4 linked regions of the Homo sapiens genome follow. The protein of the gene in region 3 purifies or fractionates together with the protein of the main gene of each other region. This does not show direct contact. Each region holds a gene or a part of one and is shown on either strand. Other genes may lie near its edges.

Evidence for each region.
Region 1: the proteins of PRR27 (region 3) and NUDT12 purify together in Homo sapiens (affinity purification with mass spectrometry; one large-scale study listed by BioGRID and IntAct). This does not show direct contact.
Region 2: the proteins of PRR27 (region 3) and VWA8 purify together in Homo sapiens (affinity purification with mass spectrometry; one large-scale study listed by BioGRID and IntAct). This does not show direct contact.
Region 4: the proteins of PRR27 (region 3) and PSMG2 purify together in Homo sapiens (affinity purification with mass spectrometry; one large-scale study listed by BioGRID and IntAct). This does not show direct contact.

The regions. Positions count from the first base shown.
Region 1 is NC_000005.10:103,552,633-103,556,901, forward strand, and holds part of NUDT12 (NAD-capped RNA hydrolase NUDT12), read right to left. Parts: intron 3,467-4,269; coding exon 3,299-3,466; intron 2,222-3,298; coding exon 2,108-2,221; intron 1-2,107. UniProt on the Homo sapiens protein: mRNA decapping enzyme that specifically removes the nicotinamide adenine dinucleotide (NAD) cap from a subset of mRNAs by hydrolyzing the diphosphate linkage to produce nicotinamide mononucleotide (NMN) and 5' monophosphate mRNA.
Region 2 is NC_000013.11:41,569,250-41,573,405, forward strand, and holds part of VWA8 (von Willebrand factor A domain-containing protein 8 isoform a precursor), read right to left. Parts: intron 1,458-4,156; coding exon 1,219-1,457; intron 1-1,218. UniProt on the Homo sapiens protein: Exhibits ATPase activity in vitro.
Region 3 is NC_000004.12:70,160,388-70,164,656, reverse strand, and holds part of PRR27 (proline-rich protein 27 precursor), read right to left. Parts: intron 3,072-4,269; coding exon 3,060-3,071; 3' UTR 3,027-3,059; intron 1,963-3,026; 3' UTR 1-1,962.
Region 4 is NC_000018.10:12,708,936-12,713,204, forward strand, and holds part of PSMG2 (proteasome assembly chaperone 2), read left to right. Parts: intron 1-3,766; coding exon 3,767-3,825; intron 3,826-4,269. UniProt on the Homo sapiens protein: Chaperone protein which promotes assembly of the 20S proteasome as part of a heterodimer with PSMG1.

The sequences.
Region 1 (4,269 bases), on a different chromosome or scaffold from region 3:
TTTTTTTAAGGTACAAATTTGTCAGTTACATTTTAAAAATAATGATACCATCTAAAAATATCCAATACCTAATACTGGTTAAACACTATGCAAACACTTTATATCTTATCTCATGTATATATTGTCCACGAAATAGTTATAAATTACATGATTTTTACAAATAGCTCTTTCACACTAAAATTCTGAAACTTTTTTTTATTATGTTGTCAAACAATTATTGCAGGTAACTCTTTTCAGGTCATTACAAGATTACAAACTACATAAGATGAAATTTAATACTTTTTCTAAGCAATTATTTTCCTCTAGATGACTGCTGACTCTGCTATGGTAAGTGATGCCTATAAATGTACTTTATATTTCTAATTTGTTGGAATTAAGAATTAGAATAGGGGAAATTGTTTCTAAGTAAAATCATTTCTAAGTAAAATCTGGAAGTTTAGAAACATTTTGCTAAATATTGCTGTATTTAGCAAAATATATTTTAAATATAGCTTTCTATTTCAAATAGATTGATAAATTTCCTACATGAAAATTAACTTATAATAATCAAAAGAACACATATAGTAAAAATATAATTATAGACTAGTGTAAGGTATTTGCAAAACCATAACTAACAAAAGATTAGCATATGCTACATATTTAAGAATTCTTAAAATGAATAAAAAAGGATAAACAATGAAAACAAAACTAGGTAAAAGATAAACATCTAAAATTCAGAGAAAAGAAAACTGAATGCCTAATACACATTTGAAAAAAGATGTTCCATAGGCAAGAAAATGAAAATGAAAACGAGATACGATTTCATTCACTCCTCAGAATGACAAATTTAAAAGTCTGAAAATCCTAACTTGGTGAAGATGTGGAATAATGGAACATTTCATGTTCTGCTGGAGGAAGTGTAAATTGGCAGAAACACTTCAGAGACAACTTGGCAACATACAGAAAAGGTTAAGATGCTCATAACACATGAGCTGGTCGTACTACTCTATGTATATAACCTAGATAACTCTTGCAAATGTGCACAAGGAGAAGTATAAAAATATTAATTGCAGTGCTGTTTGTAATAAGAACTTTAAAATAAACTAAATGTCCAATCAGCAGAATGGATAAATAGTGGAATATCCATGAATGGATTACTACCCAGCAGTTAAGACAATGACCTAGAACTACTAAAGACAGCATAGTGATTTGGAGCAAGAACTCAGAAACCAACATGCCCAGGCTTAAATCCCTTCCTTATCACTTATTAGCTGTTTGATCTTGAGCAAATTATTTAGTCCCTATGCCTTAGTGCCCCTACCTGCAAAATCACTGTAATAGTGTATTTTATAAGGTTGTATAAGGATCATACAAAAAATATATATAAAGCATAGCCTGATACTGTTTTATATATATGATATGATCCTCCTCCAAAACACAGCCTGATACTATATGTTTACTGTTATTATCTAGCAATGCAAATATTGGAAATTGAAATTGAGATAAAACATATTAATTAGATGTATTCATTCACTCCACAAACATTTACTGACTTTCTACTACATGTGCTACAGGCATGTGCTATGAGGGTTTCAGATACAGCAGTGGATAAAATAAAGTCCCTGTGCTTATGAAACTTATATTCTTGAAACATAAGATAATAAATTAGTAAGTACATATATACATACTTACATACGGTATTAGGTGATGATGAGTGCCATAGGGAAAAATCAGGAAGGATGATAGGGATTGTGAATGCAGGGTATGGGGGCTAACTAATGTATCTGGGGCAATCAAGCAAGGCCTCTTTGAAAAGGTAACAGTTGAGTCTAGTACAGAAGGAAATGAGGTGGAACCTAGATACCTGGGTCAAGAGCAACATATCAAAGAGCAAATACTGAATTTTTAACAAAGCAGACCAAATTACTAGGAAAAGTAATTTATATAATTCTCATATAAAACATGAGAATTACATGTTTATATTATTAAAATTGTATCATTTTTAAAATACCTTAAAATAACCGAGTTTTATAACATGATAATTTATCAGAGATTATTTCTCAAATGTTACCTAAACTTTGTATTTTAAAATTATAAATTAAATATAAATTATTAAGAAATGGCTTACCAGGCTCAATAAATCCAGCAAGGCAAGTAAACATGCCTGGGGGAAATCTTTTCTGCCTGCCTAAAAGGCATTTGGTCCCATCTGGATGAATAACTTGCATGATTACTACTGGATCTGTTGAAAAAAAAAATCAGATACATGAATGGCAGGAAAAACGAATTTAGATTCATTGTACAAACACTGTCTGATAGGATAATATAAAGGTATATCTCCTATAGGGATAGAACTCTTGTCTGGTTGTAAGAGATTGCTTCTTTCTGCCCTAATGTAGCTGATAATAGAATATCTCAGGGAAATTGTATAGAATAGTGTCAGTAAGCTAAAGGAAGACCATTTTTGTCCTTCTTCCCCCAATCTTAACAGCAACATTTATTCTGTACTTATGGATGTTAGGTGTATTATTACTTTTTAATGAGAAAAAAATTTGAGTAGGTAATACATGGAAATAAGGAAAATTCAAATTTTACCACGGTAAATAGTTAATTTCCCTCTTCCATCCTAACCCTTAACAAAATGTTTTTAAAAGCTAATGTGATTCTATGATTAAAGTCATTAAATAAAATTTAAATAACAGTTCATCTCTCTAGAAGTTACTAATTCAGCAAATTCTTCTCACTATATCATGACCAAGAACTAGGAATTAAATGTAAAAGGCTCTTGAGCAACAAAAATAGATGTCACTAAGCCATGTATTTTTCTCCCCAGAGGCCTCCTCAGGTGTTGCTGAGCCTATCTATTCTTCTTTCACACAGTTTTAAAGGTCTGGGTTACCAGATTTCCAAATCTACAGCAGACTCAAGGCAGCAATTAGAAGAGAGAATACAGGCAGACATTAACAGTAATGAAAAGCTAGGGCCAGGCTGTACTGCTTTAGTAATGCCTCAAACAGGCAATAAATTGTACTTAGTGGGGCTTTTTCTCCACTAAGTAGAGCCAAATTGGTTGGCTTTTGAAATCATGTATCATAACATATCAAATTATAGTGAGTAACCCAAAGTTAAGAAATGGCTATTGATGTACCATGTTTTTTACTTAAAAATCATGAAAGTGTGTAACACTTTAACACATTCTTAATGGTTAGACATGTTTTCCATAAAAAGGAAAACTCTTTAGCTCCTCACAAATTTTCTCTTTCCAAAATATCTTATTCCCCAAGATCCAGGTGGCTGAGATATAAAATAAAGGGCTTACCAACTCTTGGGTATGAGGTATTATGGACGCCATTGAGACTAGGACAGTCTTCTTTTAAACATAATCTCTTATAGCCACCTTCTTCAATTTTAGTTGCATTTCCACAGGTTGGGCAAAACTTGTATCGACTGTGCCAGGCAAGAACAGATCTTGCTTGAGCTACAACCCCTTCAAAAAAAAGAAAAGCACAAAAATTTTAATTCTGTAAGAAATTAAAATCAATATATAAGTAAAATGTTCTCAAGCTACAATAAGAATAGCTGTGTGATCAGGGGTTTTAGTATTTCTATTTTTATAATGCGTATTCTTCTTTTAAAGTAAAAGATTTAATTTTCTGGATTACAAAAATTAGATTTTTTTGTTTGAATAAAATATAACTTTCATATAAGATAGACATACTGACATCTATCTTACATCCTATATTAGATCAGGCTTTTACTGTAGGTGATTTTAAAATTTGGGGTATTCATGATTCTAGTGTAGAGTAAGTTTACAAACAGTGATTTTACAATAGTGATTTTAATAAAAATATACCACAAAGTCAGTTCTTAAGTGAGATTTGTACTCTAAAGGAAATATTACTAGGAAACTGTAGGAGGCTATCACCACTCTCTTGGTGACTATGCCATTGATGGTCCAAGCCATGTGGAACACAACCTGTTTTCAACTGGAGACTGCATGTACACAGTATAAAACACACTGCATTTACTACATTCATGGTTAACTTTGTTTACCAAAAAATGCCTAATAGGATAAATCTTAAAATATATACACTTTAGCTATAGGTTTTACTCTGGTAGTTCAAAAAAAGTTAATATGGCCTGGCCAGAAATATTACAGTTGAGGCAATAAGACTAGAAATGCTATATGTTAAATGCTTGACAAAGTTACCCTCCCTAAAATAGATTATTTGGTCTACAGATTTTTGAAATGAACAAAATAATAACAAAAATTCTAACATCGTTTAAACT
Region 2 (4,156 bases), on a different chromosome or scaffold from region 3:
ATTCAAACAGGATCTGTTCACTAGAAAGACAAAATAGCCATTTCATCTCAACTAGTATTTGTTGAGCTTGTTGTCTGCCTAATACTGGGCTGATGCTGAGGAAAACCTGGGTGGAAAAGGCATAGTTTGTGTTTGAGGATGTGGAGGTTCTAAAAGATGCAAAGTGCTAACTTGTAAAAACTAAGAAGAATGAAAAGTCATGTCATAAAATGACTGTAACTACATGATATTAAGTCTGTTCTCAACCTCGCTCTGCAACCTTACAGCAAGGCAAAGGGAATAGAAAGAGAAAAAGCTGCTAGCATTTTGGATATTAAAACATTTCCAGTCACAGAGTATGAAAAGTAAAAGGGGTGGAATAACAAAAACGTAGGCCCTTTGTGCTTTAGGCAGGGATTTTTTTTTTTTTTTTTAAGATTACTTTCACTGGTGTTTTATGTTTCTTACAGGTATTTTAAACACAGAAAAACCATGAGCTCTTTCTGTTTGTAATTCAAAAAGATAAATGTTATTGTGTTCAAGTTATGAAAGTGTTTCCAGATCTCTCCTTTCAGATCATACCCACTGGTATTTATTGTCTGATCATAAGATTCTCTATTGAATATTTAGTATATTCAGTGTAGTATCTAACTATATGTATATTATCTTATGTTGTCGCCAAGTGTTTCACCTGCCTTGTCTCTCCAGCAATAAGAAGGGATACATGTGAGTGTGTCTATATATATATACAGGCATGCATATATGTAGGTGATGTCTCTATGGGGATATAATACATATGTGTGTATATATATGTCTAATATGTACAGACATTCATACACACACACTATCTCCTATGCTAGGAAAATAGTAGATGTTCACGATTTTTAATATGATTTGAACACAAAATGATTAGCCTGAGCTTAGGAGCTTGACATAAAGTGCCAAATGTATAAAATACTACCCGGTTTATTAGTGACAAATCAATTTGTCAATGATTTATTAGTGGCTTAAATATAAACTAAAAAATAATTAATTTAAAATTATTATTGTTCATCTAAACAAAAGCTAGAACATATCCCCTCAACTAGATTATAAACCCCTTGAGGCTAGTAACTTTAGTTTCTGTTTTTCCTCCATCTGCCTCACTGTCCCTCATGGTGCTAAGCCTATAAAACAGCATGTGTTAGCTACTCAGTATCTCTGTACCTGCCCTTTTCTGTATGCTCAGATGACACTTACCTGGTTGCTTGATCACCTAAAGAGCCAATAAAAATGGCAAAAGCATTTACTTGAGGGTCTCTTGTGAGGATTTGAGCAAACTTAGCAGGATGTATTCCATATCGTGACAGATTTGCATCACTCAAGACTATGACAAAGTACTCATCAGCTTCTTCTTTGACAATTTCCTTGATGGCATGTTCTGTCCCTTCTAACGTGTGGTCCCCACTCATGCAGAACTGAGAGTGGGCATGCATTGTCTGGAGGTAAAAGAAGTTGCACAAAAGCCATGGCTGAGAAACTTCTTTTTTAACAAATACGATTATTTTTCTATTGACCATGAGCATGCATACATACCAATTATTACCCATGAGTAGTACATTCTAAGTTAGTTCTATTTAATTTGCATATTTGAGTGACAACAGTATACAGTGATATTTGTTATCTGGCATAGAATTTCATTAGATATAGGATATCATTCCAAAATTATCACAGTGGGCACTTAGTTTTAAGTGGAAGCTTGCACTTCCACTTAAAGTGAGAAAATATAAGAAAATATAAAACTTGGTATCACATTGGAGGATGCAGATGACACAGGAGGAAAATAAGGAATGAGTTGAGTTTCCAATAAACAAAGGTATAATACTAAAAACATTGTACTCACGTCAATAACGATGGAGGAAAGTGACTTAAAATTGTGATGTGCATTTTTCTGTTGCAGGCTTAAGTGTGTGAAATGAATTACACATAAAATTGGGGACAGGGAGCACTCTAAAAGCGGTCATTCTGCTTACCAATGATATGATTGTATATCTAGAAAACCCTGTCCCTCTCCCGTCTCCCTCTCCCGTCTCCCTCTCCCTCCTCCCTCTCCCTCTCCCGTCTCCCTCTCCCTCTCCCGTCTCCCTCTCCCTCTCCCCGGTCTCCCTCTGATGCCACCAAAGTTGTCAAAGCCGAGGCTGGACTGTACTGCCGCCATCTCGGCTCACTGCAACCTCCCTGCCTGATTCTCCTGCCTCAGCCTGCAGAGTGCCTGGGATTGCAGGTGCCCGCCGCCACACCTGACTGGTTTTTGCATTTTTTGGTGGAGACGGGGTTTCGCCGTGTTGGCCGGGCTGGTCTCCAGCTCCTGACTGCGAGTGATCTACCTGCCTCCGCCTCCCGAGGTGCCGGGATTGCAGACGGAGTCTCGCTCACTCAGTGCTCAACATTGCCCAGGCTGGAGTGCAGTGGCGTGATCTCGGCTCGCTGCAACCTCCACCTCCCAGCCGCCTGCCTTGGCCTCCCAAAGTGCCGAGATTGCAGCCTCTACCCGGCCGCCACCCCGTCTGGGAAGTGAGGAGCGTCTCTGCCTGGCCGCCCATCGTCTGGGATGTGAGGAGCCCCTCCGACTGGCCGCCCAGTCTGGGAAGTGAGGGGCGCCTCTTCCCGGCCGCCATCCTGTCTAGGAAGTGAGGAGTGTCTCTGCCCGGCCGCCCATCGTCTGAGATGTGAGGAGCCCCTCTGACCGGCCGCCCAGTCTGGGATGTGAGGAATGCCTCTGCCCGGTGGCGACCCCGTCTGGGAATTGAGGAGTGTCTCTGCCCGACCACCACCCCATCTGGGAGGTGAGGAGTGTCTCTGATCGGCTGCCCCGTCTGAGCAGTGAGGAGCCCCTCCGCCCGGCAGCTGCCCGTCTGCGAAGTGAGGAGCCCCTCCGCCTGGCAGCCGCCCCGTCCGGGAGGGAGGTGGGGGGTCAGCCCCCGCCCCGCCAGCCGCCCCGTCTGGGAGGGAGGTGGGGGGCGCCTCTGCCCGGCTGCCCCGTCTGGGAAGTGAGGAGCCCCTCTGCCAGGCTGCCACCCCGTCTGGGAGGTGTACCCAACAGCTCATTGAGAATGGGCCATGATGACGATGGCGGCTTTGTCGAATAGAAAAGGGGGAAATGTGGGGAAAAGAGATCAGATTGTTACTGTGTTGGTGTAGAAAGAAGTAGACATGGGAGACTCCATTTTGTTCTGTATTAAGAAAAATTCTTCTGCCTTGGGATGCTGTTAATCTATAACCTTACCCCCAACCCCATGATCTCTGAAACATGTGCTGTGTCCACCCAGGGTTAAATGGATTAAGGGCGGTGCAAGATGTGCTTTGTTAAACAGATGCTTGAAGGCAGCATGCTCCTTAAGAGTCATCACCACTCCCTAATCTCAAGTACCCAGGGACACAAACACTGAGGAAGGCCGCAGGGTCCTCTGTCTAGGAAAACCAGAGACCCTTGTTCACATGTTTATCTGCTGACCTTCCCTCCACTATTGTCCTATGACCCTGCCAAATCCCCCTCTCCGAGAAACACCCAAGAATGATCAATAAATACTAAAAAAAAAAAAAAAAAAAAAAAAGAAACAGGCCGGGCGCGGTGGCTCACGTCTGTGGTCCCAGCACTTTGGGAGGCCGAGGCTGGCAGATCACAAGGTCGGGAGTTCGAGACCGGCCTGGCCGGCATGGTGGAACCCTGTCTCTACTAAAAATACAAAAAATTAGCTGGGTATGGTGACATGCGCCTGTGATCTCAGCTGCTCGGAGGGCTGGGACAGGAGAGTCGCTTGGGTGTGGGAGGCGCAGGTTGTAGTGAGCTGAGAATGTACCACTGCACTCCAGCCTGGGCGACAGAGCAAGACACCGTTTCAAAAAAAAAAAAAAAAAAAGAAACAAGCCAGGCACGGTGGCTGACGCCTGTAGACCCAGCACTTTGAGGTGGGCAGATCACCTGAGATTGGGAGCTCAAGACCAGCCTGGCCAACATAATGAAGCCCCATCTCTACTAAAGATACAAAACAAAACAAAAATTGGCCGGGCATGGTGGTGCGTGCCTGTGGTACCAGCTACTTGGGAGGCTGAGGCAGGAGACTGGCTTGAACCCGGGAGGAGGAGGTCGTAGCGGGCCGAGATTGTGCCACTGCACTCTAGCCTGAGCAACGGAGCA
Region 3 (4,269 bases):
TAATCATTAAAATTGACTATCATGTATGATTACAAATTTATCATTAAATATTTAGAAGTGAATATTGCATGTATCTGTGAAAGACAGATACTATAATAGTTTCAGATTATTGGCTAAGTCAAATTAAAGTTAGATCCTACTTGGCTCTAGAAGATGGAAGCAAACATCTCAAGTTAACAATTTTACTGTCTAAGAAAGTTTCTCATTTTTTGAGACCATGTCCTCATGGCTATACATAACAGTAATATTCTGATCCAATGTAGGATATAGGGAAAAATACAAAATTATTTCAAAATAAAAATATGTTGAATGTTTGTAAAAATTTTTTCTTCCTTCATTCTTTGTTTGTTACTTCATTCTTTCTTCTTTTCTTTCCTTCCAAAAATATTCACTGGTCACTGAATATGTCCCAGGCATTGTTATAGGCCCTGATAAAGTGCTGAATAAGACACAGAAATGCCTGTTTTTATGGAGCATATATTTTTGTGGAGATAAGATGAGGGCAACAACAAAGACAATACACAAATAAATAAAAAGGTAAAAAGCAGTAATAGTAACTTCTACAAGGAAAAGAAGTCAGTAATAGAACAAAAAGCACTGGGTTGCAGAAGAGGGATTTATTTAGATAGAGTGCTCAGGGAAGAGTATTCTGAAGCAGGATTTCTATATGAGACCCCCGAAGTAGAAAAGCAGTTAGTCATTCATACATCAGGGCAAAGGTTCTTGGATAAGATCAAAACCAACATATTTGAAAAAGGAAAAAAAAAAAAAAGCTGCTGCATGAGGAGCATGGGGCAAGATGGAGAATGATAGGGAATGAAGTTAGAAAAGTCATTAGTTAGACAAGGTAAGTCTTGTGTCCTTGGAGAGGTGTTTAGAATATATTCCATTTTAAAAGAGAAAGTATCAGAGGCTTTTCAGAGATCTTATCTGAATAATGTTTGGTTTAACATCTGATTGTGACTGCTCAGTGGATAATGCATGTGTGTATGTGATCAGGGTGGAGGAAAAGTGGAAGCAGGTAGACTGGTTAATAGGCTATTCTGGCAGGGCACGGTGGCTCACGCCTGTATTCCCAGCACTTTGGGAGGCCGAGGCGGACAGATCATGAGGTCAGGAGATCAAGACCATCCTGGCCAACATAGGGAACCCCTGTCTGTACTAAATTACAAAAAATTAGCCAGGCGTGGTGGCACACACCTGTAATCCCGGCTACTCAGGAGGCTGAGGCAGGAGAATCACTTGAACCCGGGAGGTGGAAGTTGCAGTGAGCTGAGTTGGCACCATTGCACTACAGCCGTGCAACAGTGTGAGACTTCGTCTCAAAAAAAAAAAAAAAAAAAGAGGCTATTCCTCCATTTCTGTTAGGGATGACAATAGCTAGAGTTGGCTAGATGCAGTGGAGAAGGTTAGAAGTATTAGGATTTGGGGGTATATTTTTTGAAGTAAATCAAATGACAATTGGTGATGAATTGATTGTGTGCTGGCATAAAAGAGAAATGAAAAACTGTAGATGTCACATTTGAACTGTCCATTAAGTCATGGATAGCATAGTTCATTAACATGTTGTTTACCATAGGTTAAACACAGATGTTTTACTGTTTTGTGACAAAAAGTTCATTGACTACAAAATATGTTTGTTTAGGAAAAAACCTATTGCACTCAAAACCAATACTAACATCATCCTATAGTAGCTGTATAATCAGACTCCAGGCTAGGCTGAATGATTGCCATTTCAGTCCTCCATAGCGTAGTTTTCATCCAGACCTTATCACCATTGGTCTAAATTATCTATTTTATTTATTTAATTATCAATGTTTTTTCAATATAAATTAAGTCCAAGGAAAAACTACCACAAACAAATCAATGTAGTGAGATGAATACTCTGAATACAACAGAATGAAATAGTCTTTGGAAAAGAAAGAAAACTTTTGTAGATTTCACTTATTTCTGCATCAGTATCTGAAAGAAGAAAATAACATTGGTTCAGTATAATAAAATGACCAAATGACTCACACTTAAAGCAAAATTATTTTTCTTGATTTATGATTTTAATGTTATTTCAAAAAGACCATAATGAATGGTTATCTACAAATTCATGCTATTTGGCAAAATACTAAATACAAATGCTACAGAATATATGAAACTATTATGTGTATCTAATATCTTGAACTAATTCACTAGCCAATTGTTCATTTAACATAAAAGTAAAATAAATGAAAACCAAAGAATATAGCAATAGTCAAGGTTTAACTAAAAATGGATATCTTTTAGTTTCTTTGGCAATGGCTGCTGTAAAGAGGTATCACCAACAATAATAAATACCATCACATTTGCTTTTCAATTCTACTTTAGCTAGTGATGTCACCTCAGAAATAACTTTGATTTGGCTGACAGTCAAAGCCTTGTCATTTACCTGTCTGGTAAACATTAAAATTGGAACATCTTTGAGAAGGGATGAAGGAGAAGAACCTGAAATTAAGATGGCCAAGTTTCTTGCTTATCCCCTGATCAGATGACTAAGACACAGTGAGTCCAGTTGAGCTGTTTGTTTGTGCCTTTGGGTGGTACAATGTAGGGACAGGGAGACTTCAGGTCTAAATTGTTTGTTTTCTAAAACAGTAGTTCTTAATATGGGGTAGGATGGTGGCTGAAGGGATAGCATACAGAATAATCTGTAAGAACTTAAACAATGCCTCTTTCTATGTATAGTCCAACCCTCTTTTCCCACGTTAAAGGTTTTTACCTATATTAACTACTGTTAATTTAAAATCTTCAAGTCATAATCAATTTGGATCAATTTAAGGAGGAACTCGCTATTTGTTCAAAAGTAGCCTGAGTTCCTTACGCAAGACATGAGTTAATAGTTTGAAAGGTTCTGAGGCACAAACTACCAGTGCTTCTCTAAGCTCCACTTTCTCATTTTCATGTAGTAAAAAATATAATACATTCCAAGGTAGCTTCAGATTATGAGATTTAACCTCTTTATCTATAATTTCTAAATTATATTATCACATATGACTTACAGAAATGAACCCATGGTACTCTTCTAGAGAATTTCACTGATTTGCCTAGAAAACATTAAAAAAAAGATCTTTTCATAAACAATCAAATGTACTTTATTTCATAGTATTGGGCCTATCTTTTCTAAATAACCTTTCTTCTCTGAGAAGTTGTGTTTTGCTGATCTCTTCTTAACATGTTTAAAATATTCTATACTGCTACTAGATTTAGCTTTCTGAAACAGAGAACTGGTTGAATCACTCCTCTCAGTGAAGGTCCCTAATAAATTGCTTTGGCTACAGGATGAAGTCCAAGGTATTGAGCAGTGTTTTCAAGGTCCCTTCTTATCAGGTTCTATTTCTTTTTATCTTCACTTTCTATCATTTCCTTCTACTGTCATGTGAACCATGAGCTACAGGTATATATATATATATATATATATATATGTATACGTGTATATATATGTATGTGTGTATATATATATATATATATATATACAGTGTTCATAATACCCCAGCAGATGGAAAGTGCTTGTGTCAAATCTACTGAATGAACATATTTAATGTGTGAAGCATTGGAAGCATTGGAGAACAAGCCTGGCTCATCATACCTCTCTAGAGAAGCTGCAAACACCATTGAATGTAACCCCTTGGTGAATATCTTAAAAGAAAAAGAGTTCTTATCTCCTTCTAGGTAACAACTACTAGAGCTTTCCAAGTGGTGGCAATGTGCTGCATAAATAATTCATTGGTGGATTTAAACTTCCATTTGTTTTTAGCCTCTTGCCAGGGTTCAGAGTATCTTCTATGTAGTTCAGAATCATGGTTTCCCTTTGGTAAAATAGCCTAATTCCTTGGGTCATATCTACTAAAATTTAGGGACTAGCTGCTTCTTACATTTTTTTTTTTGTCTGAAAACAATTGTTTTTCTAAAAGTTTAGTAAACTTCGCTAAAGCTAAAGTTCAAGATGAATAATAGAAACTGCATTTACTCTCTTGCTCAAAACAAAAATAATGTGCAAACATGAGAAGAAAAATGAGAAGGAACAATTTTTCAAGATCTAAATATCAGGCTGTGTAAAATAGTAATCACTAAGAGACAGGAAGCAAGGTAGGTGGTCTCTATGATTGTCCTAGCATACTGCCTGGAGTGAGTTTCCATGGCTTGGTGCAAGGGAAAACACACACACACACACACACACACACACACAGAGAGAGAGAGAGAGAGAGAGAGAGAGAGAGAGAAAGTCCCAGAAGATTCTCTGAG
Region 4 (4,269 bases), on a different chromosome or scaffold from region 3:
TCCTGATCTCAGATGATCCGCCTGCCTCGTCCTCCCAAAGTGCTGGGATTACAGGTGTGAGGAGCAACTGCGCCCGGCCCCCGTAAACTTTATTTTATTTTATTTTATTTATTTATTTTGGGTGTTTTTTGAGACAGTCTCGCCCTGTTGCCCAGGCTGGAGTGCAGTGGCACGATCTCGGCCCATTGCAACCTCTGCCTCCCGGGTTCAAGCGATTCTCCTGCCTCAGCCTCCTGAGTAGCTAGGATTACAGGCACATGCCACCACGCCCGGCTGATTTTTTGTATTTTTAGTAGAGACGGGGTTGCACCATGTTAGCCAGGATGGTCTCAATCTCCTGACCTCGTGATCTGCCTGCCTCAGCCTCCAAAGTGCTGGGATTACAGGCGTGAGCCACCGCGCCCGATTTGAGATGGAGTCTCACTCCGTCACACAGGCTGGAGTGTGGTGGCGGGATCTCGGCTCACTGCAACCTCTGCCTCCTGGGTTCAAGAGATGCTCCTGCCTCAGCCTCCCAAGAAGCTGGGATTGTAGGCACTCACCACACACCCAGCTAATTCTTGTATTTTTTTTTTTTTTTGACAGAGAGTTTTGCTCTTGTTGCCCAGGCTGTAGTGCAATGCCACGATTTTGGTTCACTGCAACCTCCACCTCCCGGGTTCAAGCAATTCTCTTGCCTCAGCCTCTGGAGTAGTTGGGATTACAGGTCCACGCCCCCACGCCCAGCTAATATTTTGTATTTTTAGTAGAGATGAGGTTTCACCATGCAAGTCAGGCTGGTGTTGAACTCCTGACCTCAGGTGATCCAACCACCTTGGCCTTCCAGAGTGCTGGGATTACAGGCGTGAGCCACCACGCCTGGCCTAATTTTTGTATTTTTAGTAGAGACAGGGTTTCACCATGTTGGCCAGGTGGGTCTTGAACTCCTGACCTCAGGCAGTTCACCCGCCTCAGCCTCCCAAAGTGCCGGAATTACAGGTATGAGCCACCACGCCCAGCCCTCATAAACTTTTTTTTTTTTTTTTGAGATGGAGTCTTGCTCTGTCGCCCAGTCTGGAGTGCGGTGGCACGATCTCGGCTCACTGCAAGCTCTGCCTCCCGGGTTCACGCCATTCTTCCGCCTCAGCCTCCCAAGTAGCTGGGACTACAGACACCCGCCATCACGCCCGGCTACTTTTTTTGTATTTTTAGTAAGACGGGGTTTCACTGTGTTAGCCAGGATGGTCTCCATCTGCTGACCTCATGATCTGCCCGCCTCAGCTTCCCAAAGTGCTGGGATTACAGGTGTGAGCCACCACGCCCGCCCCTTTTAAAGCATCTGTGATTTCACCATTTATCTACCCAAGCTTCACCATAAATTTGATGTTCTTGCTTCAGTTTAAGCAGAATTCATGTTGCTGTGATAGGGGCACTTAATGCCTTATCCTTCTTAGTGCCTCAAACCAGATCCTTTTCAGGCGTGTTACAGCAAGTCAGTACAAGTTTATTTTGGTGCAAAATGTTTTCGTAAGTACACATTTCCTGTGAACTTTTTGAAGACCCCTCATATATCCGATTGTTGTGCTGTGCCCTTGAAATCTCTTTTACTCTAGAGCAGTCCCTTTTTTTTCATCACAAACCGATTTATTGAAGAAAAGACTAGGTGTATTGTTTTGTACAATGTCCCACCTTCTGATTTGTCTGATTACGTCCTCTTGTCACTTGGCTTGTTGTTCTAGCCCCTGTGTTTTCTGTAACTGGAGTTAGCTCTAAAGGCTTGATTAGATAAAAGGTTAATGTTTTGGGGCAGAATACAGAAAAGGTGTTGTTGCTTTCGTAATGTATCACATCAGAAGAAAAAAGTACTAGGAAACAGGAACCTAACAACAAAAAGAATTGCATAGGCCGGGCACGGTGGCCCATGCTAGTAATCCTAGCGCTTTGGGAGGCCAAGACGGGTGGATTGCCTGAGCTCAGGAGTTCGAGACCAGCCTGGGTAACATGATGAAACTCTGTCTCTACTAAAATACAAAAAATTAACCCGTTGTGACGGTGTGCATCTGAAATCCCAGCTACTCAGGAGGCTGAGACAGGAGAATCGCTTGAACCCAGGAGGTAGAGGTTGCAGTGACCCGAGATCACACCATTGTACTCCAGTCTGGGTGATAGAGCAAGACTCTGTCTTAAAAAACAAACAAAAAACAAAAATTAGCCAGGCGTGGTGGTGTGCTCCTGTAATCCCAGCTACTTGAGAGGCTGACACACAAGAATCACTTGAACCTGGGAGGCAGAAGTTGGAGTGAGCCGATATCGCACCACTGCACTTCAGCCTGGGTGACAGAGCGAGACTCTGTCTCAAAAAAAAAGAATTGTATGATACGCTGATGAGGAGAGTATTGCTATCACCGAAGAAGTGGTAGCTTACATTTTAAAAAGCTTAGCCTGTCCACCCCCTACAGATACATTCTTTTCAAACCTAGGTCAGTTGAATTGGACTACATGTGTTTGTCACAGATAGGTTAGAGGCTGAGTAATCTTTGCCTTAGTCTCTTTTCCCTAAATTTATACCCTTTTCCCTAATTCCTAAACTTCCTTTGGACTGAACATACCTGGTGCTTGCTAGATTTGCTGAGTTCAGCATACCCCCCAGTCACACCACATCACGCCAGCCATAGGAGACAATTTCCGAAAGACCTGTAACAGTAGAGACCTGATCCACCAAAGGATTTGCTGTTATTTGCAATCTGTTTATGGTAACCAACACTTACCCCTTAGCACAGTAGTAATCCTGTGTCCTTAGAGAGTATTTTATCCCTGACTCAGGAGCTTCTCATTCTTTTTTTTTTTTTTTTTTTTTGAGATGGAGTCTTGTTCTGTTGCCCAAGCTGGAGTGCAGTGGCGCGATCTCTGCTCACTGCAAGCTCCGCCCCCCGGGTTCACGCCGTTCTCCTGCCTCAGCCTCCTGAGTAGCTAGGACTACAGGTGCCCGCCGCCAAGCCTGGCTAATTTTTTTATTTTTTAGTAGAGACGGGGTTTCATTCACCATGTTAGCTAGGATGATCTTGATCTCCTGACCTTGTGATCCACCTGCCTCAGCCTCCCAAGGTGCTGGGATTACAGGCGTGAGCCACCATGCCCAGCTGCTTCTCATTCTTAGAAATGAAGTTGGGCAGGGAAGCCTTAAGCATTTCTAGAGTGTGCCCCTTGTAGAACCTGATGAAAGCTATGGATCCTTTTCCCAGTAAAAAATACAAACACATTGACTCACATGACATTTTATGTTATTTCAGATCCTTTAAAAAGTTCTAAGGAACACACATGTACCTATTTCAGGATTTTATTACATGGCTAACATTCTCCTACCTTTTACTGTTTTTTCTGTTAATCCCAATGAGTGTTGCTGTTCTCTGGAGACAAAGAGGGGAGAATATCAAAAGCCAAAAAGTTCAGTTTTCTTAAGGATGATTTTATTTGTCATAATACCAGAAATTTTCAGGGGAATACTTCTCTGGTTTTGCAGTTAAAGTCAAAAGAAAAATAATTTTTTATATTTTCTTACAGTTAACTTTTCAGAAATGAATCTGTTCCATAGAATAAAGCCCACTGGCTTATTTTAAGGTACTTCTAAAAGGTCTTATTTTAACCAGATGTCATATATGTTCCGTATTTTAATTATTGAAAACATTTAAATGCAAAAGGTATTATAATTCAATTTTTGTTTATCATAATAATTTCAACTTGTATAACTTCACTGTCATATGATTTCATTTTCTTCTTGTTTTTATAGTGTATTCATTGCCTTCAAGAAAGCTGGTGGCTCTACAGTTAAGATCCATTTTTATTAAGGTTAGTATGTTGTAGTTTGCCTTTTTGTTTATTAAAGTGTAATGAGAAAATAAGTAACATTAGGGATTAAGATTCAAAAATTACTACTGTTTTTACCATATGTACAGTTAAGATCTGATTCTACAGAGAAATAATCTTACAATATTTCAGATGTGTTACTGTCTTTTCATGATTATATAGAAAGGAAGCAGGGCTTTTATCTTGAGTGTTAACATATTTTCAGTTCGGGTAGCATTGGTGAAAAAATGTAAGCATATTAATATTAGAGGTTTATTCCATTTGTATTACCTTTCAGCTGGTGGCATCTACATATAAACTATGTATATATCAAATTATGTATATGTCATAAAATATTCTGAATCCGACTTCTTTCCTCCTCCACTGCTGTCATTGAGTGCAAACCAGTGTCATCTTCATGCCCCTGACTAACTTGCTGATCTGCCT